Linked DNA regions of Homo sapiens. The protein of the gene in region 3 interacts with the protein of the main gene of each other region in a biochemical or structural test. Each region holds a gene or a part of one and is shown on either strand. Other genes may lie near its edges.

The links.
Region 1: the proteins of CUL1 (region 3) and ZC3HC1 form a complex in vitro, tested with the Homo sapiens proteins (one study listed by BioGRID).
Region 2: the proteins of CUL1 (region 3) and PSMA6 form a complex in vitro, tested with the Homo sapiens proteins (one study listed by BioGRID).
Region 4: the proteins of CUL1 (region 3) and DCUN1D5 form a complex in vitro, tested with the Homo sapiens proteins (one study listed by BioGRID).
Region 5: the proteins of CUL1 (region 3) and DCUN1D4 are reported together in a solved structure, tested with the Homo sapiens proteins (2 studies listed by BioGRID, with this or other methods).
Region 6: the proteins of CUL1 (region 3) and ARIH1 form a complex in vitro, tested with the Homo sapiens proteins (one study listed by BioGRID).
Region 7: of the proteins of CUL1 (region 3) and UBE2F, one has a biochemical effect on the other in vitro, tested with the Homo sapiens proteins (one study listed by BioGRID).

The regions. Positions count from the first base shown.
Region 1 is NC_000007.14:130,017,792-130,020,374, reverse strand, and holds the end of ZC3HC1 (zinc finger C3HC-type protein 1), read left to right. Parts: intron 1-1,642; coding exon 1,643-1,711; 3' UTR 1,712-2,083; downstream 2,084-2,583. UniProt on the Homo sapiens protein: Required for proper positioning of a substantial amount of TPR at the nuclear basket (NB) through interaction with TPR.
Region 2 is NC_000014.9:35,312,882-35,316,381, forward strand, and holds part of PSMA6 (proteasome subunit alpha type-6), read left to right. Parts: coding exon 1-178; intron 179-1,479; coding exon 1,480-1,574; intron 1,575-3,500. UniProt on the Homo sapiens protein: Component of the 20S core proteasome complex involved in the proteolytic degradation of most intracellular proteins. This complex plays numerous essential roles within the cell by associating with different regulatory particles.
Region 3 is NC_000007.14:148,792,903-148,796,402, reverse strand, and holds part of CUL1 (cullin-1), read right to left. Parts: intron 1-3,500. UniProt on the Homo sapiens protein: Core component of multiple cullin-RING-based SCF (SKP1-CUL1-F-box protein) E3 ubiquitin-protein ligase complexes, which mediate the ubiquitination of proteins involved in cell cycle progression, signal transduction and transcription.
Region 4 is NC_000011.10:103,082,161-103,085,660, reverse strand, and holds part of DCUN1D5 (DCN1-like protein 5), read left to right. Parts: intron 1-2,334; coding exon 2,335-2,405; intron 2,406-2,821; coding exon 2,822-2,913; intron 2,914-3,500. UniProt on the Homo sapiens protein: Contributes to the neddylation of all cullins by transferring NEDD8 from N-terminally acetylated NEDD8-conjugating E2s enzyme to different cullin C-terminal domain-RBX complexes which is necessary for the activation of cullin-RING E3 ubiquitin ligases (CRLs).
Region 5 is NC_000004.12:51,841,759-51,845,952, forward strand, and holds the start of DCUN1D4 (DCN1-like protein 4), read left to right. Parts: upstream 1-1,394; 5' UTR 1,395-1,484; coding exon 1,485-1,509; intron 1,510-1,813; exon of another isoform or gene 1,814-1,827; coding exon of another isoform or gene 1,828-1,984; intron 1,985-2,242; exon of another isoform or gene 2,243-2,314; intron 2,315-2,485; exon of another isoform or gene 2,486-2,585; intron 2,586-2,613; exon of another isoform or gene 2,614-2,641; intron 2,642-4,194. UniProt on the Homo sapiens protein: Contributes to the neddylation of all cullins by transferring NEDD8 from N-terminally acetylated NEDD8-conjugating E2s enzyme to different cullin C-terminal domain-RBX complexes which are necessary for the activation of cullin-RING E3 ubiquitin ligases (CRLs).
Region 6 is NC_000015.10:72,564,830-72,568,329, forward strand, and holds part of ARIH1 (E3 ubiquitin-protein ligase ARIH1), read left to right. Parts: intron 1-1,733; coding exon 1,734-1,776; intron 1,777-2,276; coding exon 2,277-2,348; intron 2,349-3,500. UniProt on the Homo sapiens protein: E3 ubiquitin-protein ligase, which catalyzes ubiquitination of target proteins together with ubiquitin-conjugating enzyme E2 UBE2L3.
Region 7 is NC_000002.12:238,040,014-238,043,282, forward strand, and holds the end of UBE2F (NEDD8-conjugating enzyme UBE2F), read left to right. Parts: intron 1-1,274; coding exon 1,275-1,325; 3' UTR 1,326-2,769; downstream 2,770-3,269. UniProt on the Homo sapiens protein: Accepts the ubiquitin-like protein NEDD8 from the UBA3-NAE1 E1 complex and catalyzes its covalent attachment to other proteins. Together with the E3 ubiquitin ligase RNF7/RBX2, specifically neddylates cullin-5 (CUL5).

The DNA.
Region 1 (2,583 bases), about 19 Mb from region 3:
AGGAGAATTGGGAGGTGGAGGTTGCAGTGAGCCGAGATCGCACTACTACACTCCAGCGTGGGCAACAGAGTGAGACTCCCTTTCAAAAAAAAAAAAAAAAGAAAAAAGTGTATACTATTTTTTCAACTCAGGTTTCTTTCAACTTTGTCACTCTATTAACTAAATTTCCCTCAGTCATTAGTAAGAGTTCAAACTTTTTCCTCCTGGAACTTATTGAAACATCCTCAAAGAGGATAGATTTTTAAAAAACTGTGAAAGTGGGCCGGGCGCAGTGGCTCACGCCTGTAATCCCAGCACTTTGGGAGGCCGAGGCAGGCAGATCATGAGGTCAGGAGATCAAGACCATCCTGGCCAACATGGTGAAACTCCATCTCTACTAAAAATACAAAAATTAGCTGGGCGTGGTGGCATATGCCTGTAATCCCAGCTACTCAGGAGGCTGAGGCAGGAGAATCGCTTGAACCAGGGAGTCAAGAGGTTGCAGTGAGCTGAAATGGCACCACAGCACTCCAGCCTGGCGACAGAGCGAGACCTGTCTCAAAAAAAAAAAAAAAAAAAAAAAAAACCTGTGAAAGCGTCATATGAGAAACTGGAGGTAACTGTGGATCATCTTGCTAGACATTCTTTGTACTCTCACTGAGACCCTTTCTGCGTGGAATACTTGCTCTTCATTGTGACTCTCAAAGGCAGACAGAACCAAGTGTTCTGATTCACCAAGAGCTTTTGTCTCCTAATGAATTACTTTGTCTCCCTTTACCACCATTTCTCAGAATCTCAGAGTACTTCATTGGCATGATCAGATGGCACTGCGATTCTTCCTATTATTAGCACTGCTGGCTAAAACATAAAAGCGGTGAAGACCAAGGCCAGAGCTTAAACTCATAGGGGTCATTCAACTCTGTTTTTATTAGTTGTCCTTGGTTTATACTGTTAACCTCAGCTAGGCATCACATTAAGTATAAGTACTTATTCACAATAAATAATGAACTAGGGCCAATTCAGCATCATGAATGAAAAACCAGTGCAGGCCGGGCGTGGTGGCTCACGCCTGTAATCCCAGCACTTTGGGAGGCCGAGGCAGGCGGATCACGAGGTCAGGAGATCAAGACCATCCTGGCTAACACGGTGAGACCCCCATCTCTACTAAAAATACAAAAAATTAGCCAGGAGTGGTGGCGGGTGCCTGTAGTCCCAGCTACTGGGTGAGGCAGGAGAATGGCGTGAACCCGGGAGGCAGAGCTTGCAGTGAGCCGAGATTGCGCCACTGCACTCCAGCCTGGGTGACAGAGTGAGACTCCGTCTCAAAAAAAAAAAAAAAAAGAAAAACCAGTGCAAAACATGTGCTGTACTAACGGCAAGTCAGAAGTGTCATCCTCAAGTACAAAGATGAGGACAGATACAGATGCCTGAAGGGAGGATATGAGCCGTGTCTTAGAGGCTCAGAGTGTGTTAACAGGAGTCTGACAGTAGAACGTTGGCCCCTCGATCTTTAGTCTGACTTTAGGTATACATTATGTATAGCATACTACAAAATGAATTTTTACTTAGTCCTAGACATATCCAGATCATTGTGGGACAAATGATCTATCCTTTGTCTCTATAAAAGAACGTAATCACTAATAATAAGCTTTTCTACCTACAGAGTCTCTCTGAGAAATCAAGGAAAGTATTCCGAATATTTCGGCAGTGGGAATCTCTGTGCTCATGCTGAAGATACTCCAGCGCCTTCCTGGAGATAGCTGGAATGAGAGTGACTTTTTGAAAAATTAAGGCTGAGTTCCTTTCGGTCAGCTGACACTAAGTTTTTCCTGTTCTGGGTTAATCATAAGGAGCCCCCTGCCATAGCAAAGGCAGTGAGTGTCAACTATCTGCATCTGGCTGAGAGAGACCCGTTTCCTTTCAGGGATGTGGACAGGGTAAGGGCAGCAAGCATGGTTCTGTTAAAGGAGTGTGGGATTAACAGACTAGAAGGAAGACTAAGGACCTGACCACCCATTTCAGCATCTTCAATGTGGAGCAGTGTTCTGAGGACTCTTCTATCCTAGGACTATGACAGTGTGTATTAATAAAATATTTGCTAAGATTCTCATTGTTGGAGAACTGTTTTCCCCCTTGCCCTGTGGGCCGGAGAAACTTCAGTGGAACATTCAACTTTTGATTTTCAGATTGGCTGCAAAGCCTAAAATTTGTGATTCCAGTCAAGGAGGTATAATCTTTCCTAAACCAAAAGCAAGATGATTTTCATTATGCCACCAGGAAATTTCCTGGTGTGTTATAGTGAATGGTCAACTGATAATTTTCTCCTTGCTTTGATAATAACAGAATAAAACAATGTAATGGGGAGGAAGGCACTTCAGAAGAGACCCCTCTCCATGTGCCATTGAATGCATGAGTCCCCCAGTTGGGCTTCCCCAAGACTCGTTGCTTTTGGGGGATCATCAGTTTTTGTGGTAGAGAAGGTGGACCCTGAACTGCCCACTGATAAAGTAACCATGACCTAGCAAAGGCTAGAAAGTGATTATTCTCTGATATGCCATGTTTTTCGTCACTGAGATTGTTTTGTTTTATACTTTTGTACTGAAG
Region 2 (3,500 bases), on a different chromosome or scaffold from region 3:
TATGATTTTAATTGGTATAGATGAAGAGCAAGGCCCTCAGGTATATAAGTGTGATCCTGCAGGTTACTACTGTGGGTTTAAAGCCACTGCAGCGGGAGTTAAACAAACTGAGTCAACCAGCTTCCTTGAAAAAAAAGTGAAGAAGAAATTTGATTGGACATTTGAACAGACAGTGGAAGTAAGTCAACCAAAAGGAGCTGACTTTTTTTATGCTATATAGAACAGTGAGGATCTTTGTATAATTTCTATACAAAGCTATTCCTGAATTACATCCCAGGATTCAAGTTGTCAACTTAATAATGAAATTGATATCATACAGCTGACATAGGAAAATTTGAGTTGCTTTTATTCACTTAATTCCTTATTTCGTAATGTATTTGAGGTGGCTTTCAACAAAACGCATATAATAGGAAAATATAAATAAAAATAGGAACCAGCTGGGCATGGTGGCACACACCTGTAGTCCCAGCTACTTGAGAGGCTGAAGCTGGAGGACTGCTTGAGTCTAGGTGTTCGAGGCCAGTCCTATTTACTGCCAAGAAATTAAAAACAAAAATTTTAGTAGATTTTGGGTGTAAGTCTGGAATTAAAGCCATTCTGAAGATGCTAACAACATGCTTCTGATAAGTGACCAAAAAAAAATTACCATCTAATGCTTTTACGTTTGGTTTGGAAGTATGCTTAAAGGAGATAAAAAGCTAGTTCATGTTCAGGAAGTACTGGGCCCTGTCTAAATATTTCTTAAAGGTTTCTTTTATTGCAATTCATAATTAATTACATAAATAACCACATCCGGTAAAAAAACACTTAAGGTGGCTCACACCTGTAATCCCAGCACTTTGGGAGGCAGACAGATCACCTGAGGTCAGGAGTTTGAGACCATCCTGGCCAACATGGCGAAACCCTGTCTCTATGAAAAATACAAAAATTAGCCGGGCATGGTGGCAGGCGCCTGTAATTCCAGCTACTCAGGAGACTGAGTCAGGAGACTCGCTTGAATCCACGAGCCTGAGGTTGCAGTGAGCCAGGCTGGCGCCACTGCACTCCAGACTGAGCGACAGAGTGAGACTCTGCCTCAAAAAACAGAAACAAAACAAACAAACAACACTTAAAACATTCTTAAATCGTTTTTACTGTAAATTCCTTGAAGATGCAGAGAGTATCATTCATCTTTATCCTTTTCCCATTTCACCCCAAGTGCTAAGTGAAGTGTAGTGCCTGGGTCATGAAGCCAATAAACCTTTTTGTATAAATCATCCTATTTTAATTAATGGACCCCTTTATTATTTGACTTGGTAGAAAAAAATTTCTCATCATTGGGAGGCAATACATTAGAGTTAAGCAGTCTGTTAGTAACATTGAACTACCTCATTGAAACATGGAGCTCCTGATTGACTCATGATTTGAATAAGCTAGGAATGAGAAAACCTTGGAATCTCTAAAAAATACTATATTTTAACATTAAATACTTTTTTTCAGACTGCAATTACATGCCTGTCTACTGTTCTATCAATTGATTTCAAACCTTCAGAAATAGAAGTTGGAGTAGTGACAGTTGAAAATCCTAAATTCAGGTGAGTGATATTGTGGGCCACATGCAGACTAGAAAGGTGGAGGCGTGTGAGTCCATGTGTCCTATAACTTGTGGGGGAAATCTTTTTTCTTTAACTGTCATTATAGTTTTTGTTTGTGTGTTTGTTTTTTTCCCCAGCACCTGAGATCTGTTTTTAAAACTTTGGACTCTATTTAAGAGTCAGATATGAAAGCTTTTCTCCTTATTTCAGAGTGATTTTATATCTAACACCAGAGATGACATAAAGTTACCTTCCTTATGTAAGGAAAAAAATTAGCATAAGTGTTTTCTTTTTTTTAGTTTAAGGCCAATACAAATTCAATTCCCAAAGTAGTAGTTTGCAAGTTTTTCAGATAGAACTTTGGTTATTTAGTGGTTATTTAAGTAGAACTTTGAGGAGCAATATGAGTTACTGATATATGTCAGACCCTTATCTAGAGATCTTTGGAAAGCCCAAATTTTGAATACAGCTAATTGACTTGCAGTTGCTGGATGTGTGTGTGTGTGTGTGTGTGTGTGTGTGTGTGTGTTCTTACTCACTAAGTGACTAACTCCCACACATCAGCCTTATAGCTTCCATGATTCAAATCCATACTGAGTGCTTCGTATAATCAGCTCATTTAATCCTCCCAGCAGCCCTGTGAGGCAGTTGATATACCATGGACCAGGATGCTCTTATCTTTAATGAAAATACTGCAGTTAAATCGACAGATACAAGGAACTACTGGGAGGCATTTTAACTATTATGTGTATCTATTCTTAGATCACAACCATAAAGACACATGGTCTTGGTTGTGGTGTGGGGTACGGGAGTGGTAAACTAAGCTTAACTAGACCTTGAAGAGGTTTTTCGTTTGTTCTTTTTTTTCCTAATTTGTTCTTTTGGTTGCCCACAGATAAGTCATATAAACATGACAGATTCAGAAAAATTCATAGGACTTTAAAAAAAAAAAAACAGCTGGGTGCTGTGGCATGCATCTGTAGTCTCAGCTCCTCAGGAGGCTGAGGCAAGAGGATGGCTTGAGCCTTGGAGTTGAAAGCTGTAGTGCGCAATGATAGTGCCTGTGAATAGCCACTGCACTCTAGCCTGGGTAACATAGTGAGACCTCATCTGTTAAAAAAACAACCGACAACACCAAAAGCGAATCTATCCTAGCTTTTCTTCCCGTAGGAAGAAGTCTTGTAACTTGGGTTGGGGTAGGGGTGAGGGGTGGGGGCAGGGATCAAGTTGCTTTTGAAAAAGGTGCCTTTTTTTTTTTTAAGTAAAAATTTCAGCAAGAATAATCTTAAAATCTCTCTAAGGAACCTACAATTAGTTCTTGTTTTCTTTTCTGTTTGGAGACCTTCCTGCCACCTTTAAAATTGTATTTGTTATTTTTTAAATTGGTAAGGAATCAAAAATCTTGTCTTCAAAAAACTTTGTATCATTTATAAATTCTGTGATAGTAAATATATGTAAATAATTACAGTACATAGCATAAGCATCAACAACTATTTAAACTGCTTGATATTGCCTTCAGTTGCACTAAAAAATGTCCTTTTGACAAATTTCACTTTTTAGAAGTCTAGTAGTAATAGGTCACATTAACAAGGTTGCCAAACAATTGCTTCCTTTCGAGGCAAACATCATTTAGAAAATACATGTTCAGGGCCACACATGGTGGCTCACACCTGTAATCCCAGCACTTTGGGAGGCCAAAGTGGACAGATCACTTGAGGTCAGGAGTTTGAGACCAGCCTGGCCAACATGGTGAAACCCCATCTCTACTAAAAATACAAAAATTAGCCAGATGTGGTGGTGGACGCCTGTAATCCCAGCTGCTTGGGAGGCTGAGGCAGGAGAATTGCTTGAGCCTGGGAGGCGGAGGTTGCAGTGAGCCAAGATTGTGCCACTGCACTCCAGCCTGGGCGACAGGGTCAGACTCCA
Region 3 (3,500 bases):
TTATGAATATAAATGCAAAACTCGAGAAAATACCGGCAAGCTAAACCCAACAACATAGAAAAAGGATTATATACCATGACCAAGTGGGACTCACCCTAAGAACACCAGGGTGGTTCAACATCAGTGCAATACACCATATTAACAGACAAAAAAGCAGTTATTTTGACAGAGTAGAAAAAGCATTTTGACAAAATACAACACTCTTGCATGATACAAAATTCAATAAACTAAGAATAAAAGGGAACCTCTTTAGTCTGATAAAGGACATCTAGTAAAAGCTCACAGCTAACACCATCACTCTTTAACATCACAGTTAAACAGTAAAAGACTGGAAGCTTTCCCAATAAGGGCAGTAACAAGACAAGGATGCTTGTTCTTGCCACAAATTCTAGCCAGAAGAATCAGGCAAAAACAAAGACAAACAAAAAAGAAATAAAAGGCAGCCAAATAAGAAAAGGAAGAAGCAAAACTGCCTGTATTTATAGATGATATGACAGTATATCAAAAAACTCTAAGGAATCCCCCCAAAAACTATTTGAGCTAATAAATTAGAGCTAATAAACATTTAGCAATGTTATAGGAAACAGAATCAAAATACAATAATTAGTTGTACCTTTTTTTTTTTTTTTTTTTGAGACAGAGTCTTGCTCTGTCGCCCAGGCTGGAGTGCAGTGGCGCAATCAGGGCTCACTGCAAGCTGCGCCTCCTGGGTTCACACCATTCTCTCGCCTCAGCCTCCCGAGTAGCTGGGACTACAGGCACCTGCCACCACGCCCGGCTAATTTTGTTTTTGTATTTTTAGTAGAGACTGGGTTTCACCATGTTAGCCAGGATGGTCTCGATCTCCTGACCTCGTGATCCGCCCGCCTCGGGCTCCCAAAGTGCTGGGATTACAGGCGTGAGCCACCACACCCTGCGGTACTTAGTTGTACTTCTATACATTAGCAACGAGCAATCAGAAAGTGGAACAGGCTGGCATGGTGGCTCATGCCTGTGTAATCCCAGCACTTTGGGAGGCCAAGGTGAAAGTGTCACTTGAGCCCAGGAGTTCAAGACCAATCTGGGCAACACAGTGAAACACCATCTCTACAAAAAATACAAAAATTAGCTGAGCATGGTGGCAAGCGCCTGTAGTGCCAGCTACTCAGGAGGCTGAGGAGAGAGGATCATTTGATACCGCAGTGAGCTATGACTGCACCATTGCACTCCAGCCTGAGCAAGAGACCCTGTCTCAAAAAAACAGAAAAAAGTGAAATTAAGAAAACAACTCTGCCAGGCACGGTGGCTCACGCCTATAATCCCAGCACTTTGGGAGGCCGAGGCAGGCAGATCACTTGAGGTCAGGAGTTCAAGACCAGCCTGGTCAACATGGTGAAACCCTGTCTGTACTAAAAATACAAAAAATTAGCCAGGCATGGTGGCGCACGCCTGTAATCCCAGCTACTTGGGAGGCTGAGGTGGGAGAATTGCTGGAACCCAGGAGGCGGAGGTTGCAGTGAGCCAAGATTGCACCACTGCACTCCAGCCTAGGAGACAGAGCAAGACTCCGTCTCAATTAAAAAACTAAAAACCAATTCCATTTATAATAGCATCAAAAAGAATAAACTAGGAATAAATTGAAAGTAGTAGAAGATGCATACACTGAAAACCATGAGACACAGTTGAAAGAAAAGACAACCTAAATAGATGAAAAGACATCCCATGTTCATGGAGTGGGAGACTTAAAATACTGCTGAGATGGCAATACTCCCCAAAGCAATCTATAGATTCAGTGCAATCCTTATCAAAATCTCAACTGCACTTTTTGTAGAAATGGACAAGCTGATCTTGAAATTCATAAGGTAACATAAGGGATCCAGAATAGCCAATATAATCTTGGGGGAAAATAAAACGAAGTTAGGGGTCTCGATTTCAAGATTTACTGCAAAACAACAGTAATCCAGACAGTGTGATACTGGCATAGTAAAGATATACAGATCACTGGAAAATAATTGAGAATCCAGAAATAAACCCATATATACCTATGGCCAACTGACTTTTGACAAGTTTGCCAGCACCAAACAATAGGGAGAGAATAGTCCTTGGCCTCAGACTAGGCAATGATTCCTTAAAAATGACACCAAAACCACAAACAATATAAAGAAAAAATAGATAAAATAGGCTTCATCAAAATTAAAAATGTGTGTATATAAGAAAGTAAGAAGACAACCCACAGAATGGGAAAAAACATTTGTAAATTACATATTTGATAAGGATCTAGTATACAGAATATTAAAAGAATTCTTACGACTCAACAACAAAAAGACAAATAACCCAACTGAAAAATGGGCAAAGAATTTGATCAAACATTTCTCCAAAGAAGATATACAAATGGCAATAAACACAAAAAAGATTCTACACATCATTAGTTGTTAGAGAAATGCAAGTCAAAAACTGCAAGATACTACTTCACATCCACTGGGATGGCTATAATTTTTTTTAAAAATGAAAATAACAAATGTTGGTGAGGATATGGAGAAACTGAAAGTTTCATACACTGTTGGTGAGAATATGAAATGGCACAGCCACTATGGAACAGTCTGGCAGTGCCTCAAAAAATTCAGCTATTACATGACTCAGCAATTCTATACCTAGGTATATACCCAGGAAAATTGAAAACATGTATTCACAGCAGCATTGTTCATAATTGGAAACAACTTAAATGTACATCAACTGATGAACAAATAAAATGTGGTCCATCTATACATTGGATTATTCGACCACAAAAAGAAATGAAGTACCAACACATGCTAGAACATGGGCAAACCTTGCAAACAGTATACACTGAGGGAAAGAAGGCAGGCACAGAAAGTCATGTGTTATATGATTCCATTTATATGAAATGTCTGGAGTAGGCAAATTGATAGCAAATTAATGGTTGTCAGGGGCTGGGAGCTAGCGGGCAGTTACTGCTAATGGGTGCAGGTTTCTTTTTGGGGTGATAAAACACTCTGGAATTGGATAATGGTGGTAGTTCTATAAGCTTGTGAATATACTAAAAACCACTTTGTACACTTTAAAATGACTTTTATGTTATGTCAAATTTTATTATCTAAAATATATCTCAATAAAAAATATGGCTAGCAGGAAAAATAATACTAAAGTGGAAATTTAAGCTTAGTAAGAAAAGCCTAACTGGTTAAATGAATGAGAGAAAAGCATGGATGAGGAGTATGTGTGTGTGTGTTACACGTAGTTTTATTTTTAAGAGACAGGGTCTCTGTCACCCACGCTGGAGTACAGTGGCACGATCATAGCTCACTGCAGCCTCGACCTCCCAGGCTCAAGTGATCCTCCCGCCCCAGCCTCCCAAGAAGCTGGGACTACAGGCATGTGCCACCATGCCTGGCTCAACAATGAGTTTTAACATGAAGCTTTTTGTAGTGCGTATTAAAATCCTGGAATAAGGCCATATTCATATTCATGAGGCAAACATCTATTTCAAATTAAAGATGCCCATA
Region 4 (3,500 bases), on a different chromosome or scaffold from region 3:
ACATTAGTTACAGACCTCGCTTTAGACTTAGATCTGTTACTATTTACATCACTTTGGCAAAGTCAGTTAACATTTACAGACCTTATCTAAGTTATAAGGTATTATATCTCTATGTAATCTCATTTGACTTGCTTCTAACCAAATTTTAATTAGTAATCACCAAGTAATCCTCCAGTTTCTAGGGGGGCTATACTGATATTTCTTTTTTATTTTTTATATTTTTTGAGACAGAGTCTCGCTCTGTCACCTACGCTGGAGTGCAGTGGCGCAATCTCGGCTCACTGCAACCTCTGCCACCTAGGTTAAGTGATTCTCCTGCCTCAGCCTCCTGCGTAGCTGGGATTACAGGCACCTGCCACCACGTCTGGCTAATTTTTGTAGTTTTAGTAGAGACAGGGTTTCACCATCTTGGCCAGGCTGGTCTTGAAATCCTGACCTCGTAATCCATCTGCCTCGGCCTCCCAAAGTGCTGAGATTACAGGCGTGAGCCACTGCTCCTAGCTTATGCTGATGTTTCTAGACATCCTCTAAAGCTTTCTCTTTGAATCACTAATGGCAACTTTGAGAGCAAGTATGTTTTCTTGATGCTTTAGAAAAATTTACAATATATTTACATCGTGGCTTTTAAAAAAACCGTTTGTCTTTTCCCTTAATTTTTTATTTTTTATTTTTTTTTGAGACAGGGCCTTGCTCTCTCCCAGGCTGGAGTACAATGGCGTGATCATGGCTCATTGCAGCCTCAAACTCCTGGGCTCAAGCAATGCTCCCACCTCAGTCTCCTGAGTAGCTGGGACCACAGACTGGCACCACCACACAAGGCTATTTTTTTTTTCCCTAGAGATGGGGTCTCCCTGTGTTGTGCAGGTTTGTCTGGAACTCTTGGGCTCAAGTGATAATCCCACCTCGGCCTCCCAAAGTGCCAAGATTACAGGCATGAGCCACCGCGCCTGGGCCTCTTAAATTTTCAAATCTGATTTTTGTTTTCTTTCAATCATATATAAGAATACATACTCATTTATGCATTTTAACACCTTTATTGTATATGTATGCCTTTTAAGTTATAAAATTAACACATTCTCATTTAAACAATTCTCCAAATATGTAAAGGAAGAGAAAGTGCCCTATAATTAATCACCCCCTTCACCTTTTAACACGAGTGCATTGTTAGTACTTATTTAAACCTAATAACACTTAACATGTTACACAAAAAAATTAAAAAGGGTTTTGGCTTCAGACCAGTATTAATGTCATCTTAGCAGCTTGGATCTCAGGCAGCAAGAATGTATTGACTTTATGTTGTGCTAGTAACCTAAATATGGTGCTGTCAAATTTACCTGAGCAGCCTTGGTCTAGTCTATGGTTTATAAAGCTGGAGGATTTTCATCCTTGAAAAAGGAAAATAGAGGCTTCTCTTGACTCTTAAGAATAATATCTCAAGATTATATTTTCAAAATCCCATAGTGGTAAACACATTTCTCATATTATTACAAAATTTGTTTTATTCTTATCCAGTCACAAAAGAGACCTAGTGATGATGTAATTACTATATTTTGGGAATCTGATAACATTTTGAAAAAATGATAATTGATGTATTGATTTATTAATGTTGCTAAGGGTGTAAAATAAGGAACAAGTTAAATGCCAGTAATTAATTTTTGGATGAATGATAGACACTAACTAATTGAAAGATTAAACTTCTGTTTCTACATTAAGGTGACATCAATGCTTGCTGTCTGTTTTAGAACCAAGATGATAAGGAAAATAGCTCTTTCTGGAAATGGAATGTAGTAATTTCCATAAGTCATTATTTTCAAAATACCTTTGTCTTTTTCAATAATTAAATTATATTTGAGTGTATTTCAAAAGGGTAATAAATGGCCTGTTTTATAGGTAAATATATTCCCCTTCTGATTACTGTATTGAACTTTGTGTTGGTTCTGATATTCCAGTAGATTAAGAAGCTCCAGCTGCCTTATGTTTTTTCATATTCATGCATTGTCAAAAATTTTATTCAGAGTAGGCTCTCAGTGAATTTTTTTTTTAATGGATTGGTTTGAGTTTTTGTACTAACTTGTGATTGATACTAATGGAGTATTTCTTTGCTGCTTTTTAAATTTTCTTAATTTCATATTGTAATCTGGTGTTCAAAGAATACTTCACAAATTTTAAATTTTAAATCCTGTAGCAAATATTTATACTTATCAAAGCTATGCCAAAATTCAAATTTAATTATTTGCAAAATATTATGGTGTGTTCATGGGTACCTTTAGCATGACGATTTATGTTTTATGTTGATATTATAACAAAATATGTTAATTATTTTTGTCTTTGAAGGTCCTGATGAAGTTGTAGGGCCAGAAGGAATGGAAAAATTTTGTGAAGACATTGGTGTTGAACCTGAAAATGTATGTTTTATTTCTAAGTAGAATGGCATATAAGTGGGGTATAGCATATTCGTAAATTACTAAAAATCGAGACACTTTAATCTTGTATGAAGATTTTATTTCTTCATGTTTAATATTGTAAATTTGCATTTAAGGTATTTTTAATCAGTTTAAGTTGGGCAAATGTATTCTTTCTTGATACAAATGTTATATGTAATAGAATAAGAGATTCTACCTTCAGAAACTGTTAGAACTTTTTACTTTTAAGAAATTGGCACATCTCAATTTCTTTGTATATAGTTAATAATTCCAGAGGTTGTACTCTTTAATAGTTGAAGGATGGAAGTAGTTGTGTAAAAATGCTCTCCATGATAAATATAGACATGATTATCTCTATGCTGACTTTTCCCCTATCCTTTATGTTCTGTTCTTTCCAGATTATTATGTTAGTTTTAGCGTGGAAATTGGAGGCTGAAAGCATGGGATTTTTTACCAAGGAAGAATGGTTAAAGGGAATGACTTCATTACAGTAAGAAATTTTTTTAAAAAACAAATTTGATGGCCTATTTGAAGATCTTAATTGATATTTTGTGCTTCATAATTTTCAGGAGTAAGGTTTCACCTTAAATCAAATCTGTTTGATCTATAACAATTAGTTTGGGGATTGAAAAAATTATATTGTGGTCTTGGGCAAATATATAGGTACCCCATGTTTTATATTCTCTAAGAAAGAACCTTAGTACAGTCCTATTAAAATTCCTTGATTCTCTTGGTGAGTGACTTAAAAGTCTATGATCAAAGACCTATTTATTTACAGGTTGTTTGAGTATAAGGATTTTCCTCTCTCAATACAGAATTCTACTATCGAAGGAGTATGTTCGTTGGGCAGCCCTAAGCTCTAGGGCCTCCTCTCCCTTCTTCACTTTAATATTTGACTTTAAAAATTTGAAGATAGAGTTACATAACCCTTTTATGATTTCTTTATTGCCAAGTGAATTTCATAAAGGACAAAAGTAGAAATGTTGTAACTGCTCCCGTGCAATCTTTACCCATTTTATAGTCCTACACTTTCAGTTTAGGATCCTGTCTTTGAACATTTTCATAAGTTATAGAATT
Region 5 (4,194 bases), on a different chromosome or scaffold from region 3:
TGTGTCCTGATTTAAAATCTAAATTTCAGAGCCTGGAAACCCAAAAGCCTGGGCTGTAGAAATCTAAAACCAAAAAGACCGTGCGTTCTGTTACCTGTGATTTGTGGTGTCACCTACTCTTTGAGGCTCCCAGATGGCCCAGGGCCTTAGGATATGGGGATGCCTTGTAGGTGTGTTGTTGTTGGAGTTGGTGGCTGGGATGAGGGTGGAGGCAGGGTAGGGTGGGGGTGGGTTGGGGTGGGGGGAATCCTCCGTTAATATCTCGAAATATTGTTCTGTTACCATAATGCGGTGTGATAAGTTAGCTTCAAGTATTGAAAAATCAGGGCAGGACTCATGGAAATGGTGCGAATTCTTGACTTAGGGTCAGAAGAATTCACCAAAATTAACGTCTCCCTCTGCCAAATAACAGCCAGTTTCAATTTCTGGACGGCCTCTCCGCGGGAGTGACAGGTTTTCTTAGATGCCGCCGGGGGTCTTTCACGGGCTGGTGGTCTGCCCCCTGGACTCGTCCATGTGTTAGGCTCAGTCCGCAGCTCAGAGCGCGGCCCTGTATTTCTGTCTGATGTCTGGGGCATACAGATGTGTGTGACGGACAATGCTCGTGGCATTCGAAGCCTCTTTAACAGACATTAGTGACTAGAGGAAAGAAGTGTGCGAACTCTGCGAAACAAGTATGCGGACTCTGGAAAAGAAGTACATTTCGAAAGTGGGGAGAGGATGGATCTTCGTAGGAGAAATGGAAATTTGCTCCCCACCAGAAGGTTTGCTGGAAATTAAGACGCGGCAATTCTTAATCCAGTTTCCTGCGGTAGGAAGCAGCTGACAAGAGAAGTCCCAGTCCGAGTTCGGCGCGAACTGGACAAGTGTCGTGGGACAAGTGGCGGGAGACCCGGCCGCGTCGCGCCGGGCGCTAGGGACGGACGCATTTCCCTACTTCCAGCAGCTGGTACGAGCCGCCCCCAACTGCGCTGCGCTGCTCTATTCTTTGGGAAACACTTCGCGTGCTTTGTTTCAGACGCCGACCCATCTTTCTTGGTGGGTCTCCAGCTCCACCAATCCCGCCCGCCACTGGGCGGGGTTTCAGGGTCAAGGTGGACCAATTTCCCAGCTTCGCCCCTACACGCGCTCTCGGACCCCTGGGGGTGACTGACAGCAGCCGGGCCCAACCCGCTGCTCCGGAGCATGGCCTCCGCCAGGGGCGTTACGGAGACAAGGCCCCAGGACCAATCGTATTGGCCAGTGGGGGGCGGGGCCTCGTTGCCAGCTCCAGACCGGCGCTATGGGCACTCCTTTTGTCAAATGAGAGACGCAGCAGGGCGGCCCCTGAGCCGCGGTTTAGCCAATGGAGAAGGCGAGATGGGCGGGCTGGGAGTGCCCGGCGGCGGGTCCTCAGCTTCGAGCCGAGGTGCAGTGAGCTGGTGGGGGGACCGCGAGGCGAGCGCGGGAGCCTGGGCGGCGAGCCGGGTGTGAGCTGCCTGAAAATGCACTCGGATGCCGCCGCTGTCAGTGAGTAGCAGAGAGCCAGCCAGCGGGCCGGGGCCGGGCGGCTGCCAAACTCGCCACTCGGCTCCCGCAGTCCCCGCCCCACGCCTCGGGTCCCGAAACGCGCCGGGAGCCCCTGCCTGGGAACCACCCCTTCCCCTCCCGGGGCCGGGGCGGGCGGTGACGCTGCGGGCGGCGTGGGGCGGGGGCGGGCGTGGGGGGAAGGGACCGGCCTGCGGGGAGGGCGGAGGTGAGGGGGGTGGGGACTGGCTCTCTTTCAGTGTTGGGGGAAGGGAGGGCTGGACGTGCGATGAAGGGCCGAGATCGGAGTGTCCGGGGTGCATGGAGGTGGAGGCAGCGTTGGGCTGTAGCGGGCAGGGCCGGGGATGTGGGGGGGTGGCACCGGCGGGGAGAGGGAGGGAGCGAGCGAGCGAGCGGGGCACAAGGGTGAGGATTTCCAAAGGGCTGAGTGGTGCGGGCGGCTCCGTGAGAAAGGCGGGTGAGTGCGAGGGGGGCGCGGGGGCGGGGACAATGGGAAGAAGGGCTGGTTGGCGGGGGGGTGGGGGGGGGGCGGCGAACAATGGGGTGGGGGAATGGGGGCAGCGGCCGAGCGGGGCAGGAGGGCGGGCGACTGGACGAGGGCTGATGTAACGGGAAAGCGAGGTGGTGGGAGGGACTGGGGTGTAATGGTAGTTGGGGAGTCCTGCGGGGCGGGAGGGGCGTTGGAAGGGCGGTGGGTAACGGAGAGTGGTGGGAGTGGAAGATGTTGGGGTAAAGAGATGGGGCAGGTGTGGAAGGGTAGGGCGATTGGGAGGAAGAGGAGAAAAAGGTGGGTAGGATTTGGGGTGGCAGAGTGGGGGCAGGGGTGGAGAATATGAAATGGGGGTGAGGAGCTAGTCGGGGAGGAAGGGGAGGTGGGGCGGAGTTGGGCAGGAGGACTGTCACGTCCAGATTCGGTCCGGAGCCGGGCTAAGGGGGTGTCAGACTGTGCTTAGGGGAGGTACTTCCTCTCCCTGTCGAGGCAGGGTCCCTTGAAGGGGGGAGTCCAAGCTTCGGGGTGCGGAGAGAGGAGGGGGCGGGGCTGAGGTGGAGGAGACGGGGTAAGTGCCCTAAGGTTGGAACTGGCCGTGGTTCCCCCCGGACGGCGGGAAGCGAGGTCAGCGCTGGCGCGGGCTCCGGCAGCGGGACTAGGAGGCGGGGCAGGGGTGCGGGCTGCGGGGTTTCAGCAGCGGGAGCCGGAGGGGTCGGGCCCTGATGGCCGGGTCGGGGGCTTGGCGCCGGGGAGGTGTCGGGGTCCCTGGCAGTCCGTGGGTTTGATAGTCTGTGACGCAGTTGTCTAATTTCTGGCTATCAGGTGTGGGGGTTGGTGCCATGGAACCCGCTTCCTTAGAGGGATGGCCGGGCCCTAGGCCGCGCCCCACGCCCGGGGGGCGCGACTTCTCCCAGGCGTGCTGGGAGGGCGCTTGAGGGGTTTCCTTTAGGGTTTGTCTCCAGTCAACGGGTATGAAGGGGAAAGGCGGTCCCGCCGAATTCTGGGACTTGTAGTCGCGGCCGCGCCCGGCCGCGGTTGGGTTGGGTGCACGTGGGTAACTGTGGAAACGGGTCCCGGCATGCAGCGCGCCCTTGGAGCCTTCCTGCTCGGCCAACTCGTGCTTTATTCCCCGGCCAGCTCCTGCGCGCTCTCGGGAGGCGGTTGAGTTCCCAGGGACGGAGCGACTCCCCAGCCCTTCTCCCTTGGGAGAGGGAGAGCCCACGCCAGGCGCAGCCCTCTTCACGCTTAGGTTCTTGGTCCCCAAGTGAATTTCCCCCTGCATTTTGTGGCCTTACTTGTGGAATAAATGCTTGGTCTTGTACCATCATGCGCACGGGTTGTGGGAAAACATTTAAGAAGCAACACAATGTAAAGCAGCCTTTAGAATGGTGTATTTAATTTTGGCATCCAGTGTGTGTAAGCACTGGGTTCCAGCATTCCCTTGCATAAATATGAGAACACAGTGGAGGTACACGTAACCCTTGTAACGATAATATAAACTATGTGTTGGTATTTCTTGGGGTGTTTGAAAAAATAACTGTCTTGAAATGAGTGATGGAGGTGGGTTAGTGGAATTTAGGGTGGAAATGTGAAGGTGAGCAAAGGTAATATGTGACGTCTTCAATTTTCGAAGAAGCTTGGAAAGCAAATGAGAATAGAAGAAAACTGTAAAAAGTGGAGAACCATAAGACTTTTTTTGTTTGCTTGTTTTATTATTAGCTGCAGGCTGCAATTCCTTCTCTCCTTAATACTAGAAACCTTCCTCTCCATAAGTAGACTCCCTAAACGTCACATCCTTCACCAGTTCCCTTTACTGTTTACAGGGAAGGGACTCCAGAATCTGTAATGTAGAAGGCTAAGATTAATGCAGAGATGATAGATTTTTGTATGTAATATATAAGGTATTATGAAACTACTTGCAACATAGTCATTAGAAGAATATTGTAATTTTTCTGATGATAAAAATATTACCAAGAAGTCCTAAGATTTGTAAACCTTTTGGTGTGGTTACAAACATACTGAACTTGGATACTTGATTGTTTGATGGTTCTTTTCATGATGAGTGAAAAATTGGGCAATGTGTGTGGTGTTCTTGTGGAGATCATTTATATCTATCTGTCATATTTTACTTAATCGTGTGGTGAAATATCCAGGAAACTCTTGGTAATATAAAAATA
Region 6 (3,500 bases), on a different chromosome or scaffold from region 3:
AAGGCAGCTCTCTGGGCCCCTTTTTTTTTTAAAAAGGATGCCAATTCCATTCACCTCCTAAAGGCTCCACATCCTAATACTGTCACATTGGTTATTAAGTTTTAACATACACATTTTAGGGGGACACAAACATTTATATCCTGCTAGAAGTTAAGATGATTTTCTGTTCCTTTGAGGGTCTTGAGGAGTAAGAAGCCAATCAAGTCAAGGGGCTCTAGACCCAGCAAATAGATTTTTTGTTTTGTTTTGTTTTGAGAGAGGGTCTCACTCCATCACCCAGGCTGGAGTGCAGTGGCACGATCTCGCACTGTAACCTTTGCTTCTCAGGTTCAAGTGATTCTTGTGCCTCTTGAGTAGCTGGGATTACAGGCGTGTGCCACCACGCCTGGCTAATTTTTATTTATTTATTTATTTGTTTATTTATTTATGTATTTATTTTTAATAGAGACAGCATTTCACCTTGTTGGCCAGGCTGGTCTTGAACTCCTGGCCTCAAGTAATCCACCTGCCTCGGCCCTCCCTAAGTGCTGGGATTACAGGTGAGAAGCACCATGGCCAGCCAGATTTTCTTTTTTGCTGCGGGGTGGTTTGGAGGGGGAAATATTTTATTGGTATTCCATACCTTTCTTTTTTTCCTCCAAACATCTATAGAATTACACTTAACACATCATTAATAATAAATATTTCCAAAAAGAGCAGGTAAGCTCACAGAGATTAAGTATGTGTAAAATACATACTGTTTCGATAAAGATTAATTATGTATTGTTATTTTAGAGAAAAGGTGGATAATACCTACTTTCCAATGTATTTTTAGCGTGACACATTTCAAACATAAAAGTATAGAGAATACAGCAGTGAATACCTATATAGCTACAATCCAGTTAAATCAAAATTAGTATTTTGTTTTTCTTCATTAAGAGATAAAACATGACACATATATTTGAAGCTCCTTGGTTCCCTGCTCCTTCCCATTCCCCATCTTTCTTTTCAGAAATAACCATTTATCTTAACCTGATTTAAATCAATAGTAGTTTGTTTCTGTCTTTAGCAAAGGACTTTTTGCCATTCGTAAATTACTTAATTAGCTAATTAATCTGTCATTTTATTATTTTTTTCTTAAGCATTTGTGTTTGTTAATTATACTTCTTTTACAAGTGTATATGTCATGAACTTAGAAAACAAAAGTGAATTACTGATTAACACATGTTTAGTGAGTATTTAGTCTTTTTGTTTTATACCTTGCCCAGTACCATTTCCCTCTACAGGGCGGAGGTTCATTTGTTTAAATAATGCAAAGATGTGACCTATTTGCTTCCCATATATTGTTTACTGTGTATTAGTACTAAATTATATAAGTAACCTACAAAGTCAGCCTTTTATTCTTCATTTAGGGTGTTAAGTAAAAGATTAAAAATGCACTGATGAAGCATGGGTTGAAACTTCTCAATATAGTCTGAGGCACCTTAGCAACAATTATTATGAAATTGTCATCAAAGCGTGTCTTCATGCTTATAGTCATTCTTCACACATATTGAGTACCCACTATGTGCTAGTTCTACTACTAAATTCTAGGTAATTAACTGTAAAGCAGACATGGGTTCTCTCCTTGTATTTGCCAGTCACTAGAAACTAGTGACAATACTGTGGAACTATAAGGCATGAAATGATTGGCTTATTTACTTGCTTACAGTAGGTAGGCCTTAATTCTATTAACTCTTTGTGTCACTTAACAGCTTTAACTGTGGAGAAAATTGGCATGATCCTGTTAAATGTAAGGTGAGTTTGTCTGACATTTCAATTTTTAAATAATGGCACACTTCTAAGACTTAGTGACTAAAAATCATAGCTGATGATTTTGTTATCTATCTATTGATAGATTTTTTTTTATCCTTTTAATTTCAGATGATCATTACATGTATTCAGAGGTAATTCCTTAGGATAAGCCAAGTCAGCTCCTGATTGTTATTAGGATAACCATGGCTAAGGCACCTCTTTGTCAGGCTTTGTAATTAGGGGAATACACACCTTGCAGTTGGGCTTCTCTTCAAGCTCTAGGTTCCCCACTCAGCTTCTGCCAAAGAAAATCCTGCTTTGGTTGATTTTATATATACTGGACATTGTAGCTATGGGATTTCCCTGGCTTAAGAGGATGTGAGCCTAGTGATAATCTTATTCATTGGCTTTTACATTTAAGCTTGACTATAGTTAAGTGCTAAAGTAATTTGCTATTTTTAAAAGTCTTTTGTTGTATCCTAACCGTTGTTATTTTCAAACAGTGGTTAAAGAAATGGATTAAAAAGTGTGATGATGACAGTGAAACCTCCAATTGGATTGCAGCCAACACAAAGGTTGGTGTTTTCCTTCAGTAACTCTTGGTAATAAAAATGATAAGGATTGGTACTTTGGCATTAGCAAAAGCAATGAGGTGACCTACTTACAGGCTTTGTTTCATCTTTTTCTCCATTGAGTCTTTTTTTTTTTTTCCCAGAATGTTTGCCTGTTATTTCCTTTTTCTCTTTGAGTTTATTTTAGAGTATTGAGTACTGTAGTACAGCATCCACAGTTCTCTGCCTTAGGTTTCTTCTACTGGAAAAAAAATTAGTGTTCTGTAGAGGAAAAAGCTGATAATTTTTCAAGTGTGGGATTTGTGCTTGGCTGCCATTTAGTATACAAATGCATTGGAGTTTACTCCGCCTAGCTTGGTTCTGTTAGGCTAATTTACATTTTTGTTTCTAATTTTTTGTTTTGAAGTACATTGCTCTTGATACTAGTTTCAAAATTCAATTTCAAAATTCACTTTCTTAACCCCAGACAAATGTCTTAGAAGTGTTTAAATCTTGAGTACCCTTCTCCTCGATCACTAATCTAATGAGCAAGCATTTGAATGCCAACCGTGTACCCAGCTAGTCTTTTAATACAAAGTCGTATTATCCATCCTTTATGTAATTCAGTCCTATCCTATCCCCATAGTGAGTGACTTGGGTAATGAATGGTAGGTTGGTTCATGGGCTATTCATTTTTAGTATTATTTTGTACATGTAAAGATGATGCTTTAAAGAATGCTGAGTTGTTTGACCCATAGTATATAAAGCTATCTTTGAACTGTTGCCTCAGTCATCACAGGACAATGAGATTAAGAAGTGTGTAAACAATGAAGGCCGACGCAGGTTGTCTGTGTGTGTTTAAATATACATCTTACATACTTATATATAAAACATGAATTTATATTTCTGTCTCCCAGAAAGTAGTGAAACAGTGAATCTTGCCACATAAAACAAATGCCCAAGTCTTTAAGGAATATATGGTAGAAATTAATATTTTTTGTTCCCTCCAAAACCATCACGATAAGCATAACTCACGTCAATCAAAGAAAACCTTACTATAAATATACTGTAATGTCAGAAAGTGGTTACTTGTTTTGTTATTAAAAAAAAATTCTTAGCCAAGCATTCTTTTTTTGAAAATTGAAGATTTTCCCACAAGAAATGTTCCTTAAGTCC
Region 7 (3,269 bases), on a different chromosome or scaffold from region 3:
GCCCATGTGGGAGGCTCCAAACGCCATCCTGTAGACAAATAGGGCGGTTGGCAGGGCAGAGGCACCTGGGTAGACTCAGAGCACTCCACTTTCTCACCCTGAGACCAGAGCAAGTCATGGGACCGTATCCATAGCTTCAAATTGGGAACTTGCCCGCCCTGGAAAGGGTCGCTGTGCTAACTAAAAGTGTGGCAGGAGGGCAGGCACCTGGTGCCCAGCTGGCCAGGACCATGCTCCAGGCAGGATCTCCCTGCAAGAGGGCATCGCGGCAGCAGCGAGGTATACATCGAGTGCCAGGTTATACCCTGCACATTGCCAGGTGTCGGGATTATGCAGTGGAATCAGCAAACAGGTTAGACTGAGGCTTAGACAGGAGGACTGAGGCTTAGCTAAGGAAATGGAGCTCATGCCCACTAAGAACTATGGTAACTGTGCTGTGTTCCCTGGGCAGTGGGGGCTGCATGGCATTGATGGGACCGAAGCAGTGTGATCCTGCAGGGACATCTGAGACCCAGCAGCTGTGTTGTAGGAGTGAGAGGGTTAAGAGCTCCAAGTCATTCTTACGGCTCATACAGTCCCATGGGATTTTACTCCTAACCTTGGGGAGACCAGATCCAGGGACAAACCTGACAGTGGCCCAGATCCGAGAAGATTGTTCCACCCATACTGGCCTGGGGTGATTCCTAGGTCCACACCGCCTTTGGTCACTGTCCACCTTCATTTCAATGCATGAGGATGGAGCTCTGTGGCACACCCAGCTCTCTTCTGGGCAGGGTGGTCATCCTGCCCAGAAGAGATGGGGGCCTGTACATGGGCTGTGAAGAGCAGGCACATTTTAAGTAGGTAGCAGCATCCAGGGAAATCATTCTAGGAAGACAAATCCAGAAACAAGGGTCTTCCTGAGAGCAGCAGCTGTGGCTCACATCCATTGTGGCCAAAGGAGTCTTGGCTTTGTGACCTCGACCACACTTTTCTGGGCTCCACTTTCCCCATCTGGAAAATGAGAAGGGATAGGTACCCCCTTAGGGTCCCTTCCACTCAGGCCTTCCACGTGCTCCCCCCTCAACATACCCAGCACTGTGTCTTGCGTGCAGTAGGCACCCAGGTCGTGGCGAAATGGCACTCAGACTCCGCAAGGTCCCAGTCCTTCTACCACCTTGGCGACCACAGGGGACCTTGGTGCTGGTGGATCTGACTTGTCCCTGAAGCGCTGCTTCACTCACTCACTCACTCCTCCTGTTCTTCTTTCTGTCCCCAATGCTGTTACTCCACAGGAGGACTTCCGGAATAAAGTGGATGACTACATCAAACGTTATGCCAGATGATAAAAGGGGACGATTGCAGGCCCATGGACTGTGTTACAGTTTGTCTCTAACATGAAACAGCAAGAGGTAGCCCCCTCTCCCGTCCTCATGCTCCCTCTCAGTCCCCTGGATTGCCCCAGTCCTGTGACCATGTTGCCCTGAAGAAGACCATCTTCATGACTGCTCATTGTAGATGGAGAATTCAACATAAATACAGCAAGAAAATGTGTTTGGGCTTCTGAAGAGTTGTCTGCTTACCTTAACATGTTTACTTTTTTGAACTTGTACTGTATAGGCTGTTGGTGAAATTCTTAAGAAGTTGTAATGAACTCAAAATTGAGGCCAGAGCTTGCTTTCCCTTTTCCCAAACAAAATTGGTTTTCTGCACAAGCGATGCTAATGATGTGTTCAGTGTAACTCGCAGATTGGCAATAAGATACCCGCTACAAACTGTGATTGGATGCAAAATCTCTTAGCTTCTTTCACGAATGTTGGCCCTGCCTAGATGTTGTGAAGCCTCCCAGAATGCATAGAGTCATTCACTGTAGATCTCTTATTGAAATGCGTATTTTATTTAATGTAAGTATATTTTGGAACAGATTTGTAATTTGTACAATTCAATGCTTTAATTATTTTTTCTATTCTCATTTAGTTTGTATTTTCATTGTATAGAGCAGACAGAAAGATGTTGGGTCAAGCAACTATTGAAGAGAAATACAAAGAAAATATGAAAGGCACATTATTCATTTTGTCCAAATGCAATGAGAATCTCACTCTTAAAAATCAGCTCTTGCTTTCGGGTCCGGATGTGGTGAGCACATTTTGGAGCCCTTTGAAGCTAGATTTGGATGATCAAAACAAAAAGGCAGGGAGCCCATTCTAACATGCTGCCCAGAGGAAACTGGCTGGAGCCTGGACCAGCTGGGGTTGATGCTTTTGCAGTGGTCATGTGATTGTGACCTGGTAGCTACTTATCAGAGAGCCAGACCCTGCTGTCCTGGGAGACAGGAGCGATGCCTCAGGAATCAGCCCAATGTCTGATGTCACTGAGACTGTACCTGTGGCCTTCTTCTGAGTTTGCTATGGCTCCAGGCCCTGCCGGTGGGGTGAGCCTCCTAGGCCTTGGAGGACCAGGAGTCAACAGTGGCATATGCCATCCTCGGCCAGGTTAATATACTGCAGAGGAAAAGCCCTGAAGAGAGGCAAGTGGATTTACTCCAGCATGTAGACATTTGAACCAGTGAAATCAAACACAAAATAAATGTCTGTCTAGTTTCATTTGCTGCCTGCCTAACACTCTCAAACTTAACTGCCAGCTTCCTTAGACCTCTGGATTCCCCCATCTGCCATCTACTGGGTTTAGTTTGTTTTTCTTAATTTATAGAATCTCTGATTGTGAGATCAGTCTGTCACGGAGACCCAGCAGGTGAGGAATGTAGGCCTTGCTTCCTCTTTGCACCCATTAGACTTGAGGGTGGCCCCTGGCTAACAGGCCACACAGAGCAGGAAGGGTGAGATTGGTTAAAGAGAATGATGGCATCTCAGGAGCTCAGGGCTTGTCCAGGAGACACATTAATCCCCACCTCTCAGGGCCTGGGAGAGGGAGGTACTGCAGCTTCACACTTTTCCTCTGCCTAGTGTCAGAGGAACTTGCCAGCTGAGCACTAGGCTTCCTCTCTAGGCAGGGCAGGAGGCCAGCAGCTAATTCCTGCCCCCTCTGACCCAGGAAATGAGGTTCTCTGCTTGGTGCCAGTCCCAGGCCCAAGTCAGGGCACATCCCATAGTAGTTGTTCGGGCTCCCTGGAGTTCCCCAGCTGGTGGTGCAGGTGTTGATGCAGGACTTTTCAGAAGAGCGCTTCTGTGGGAGAAACGCCTGCTGTCCAGTGGAAACGTTTATGCAGTGTACATGAAAGACAGTGTGCCCTCTGGACCACACTGAAAGTGGTAATATCAGTTATTCTGACA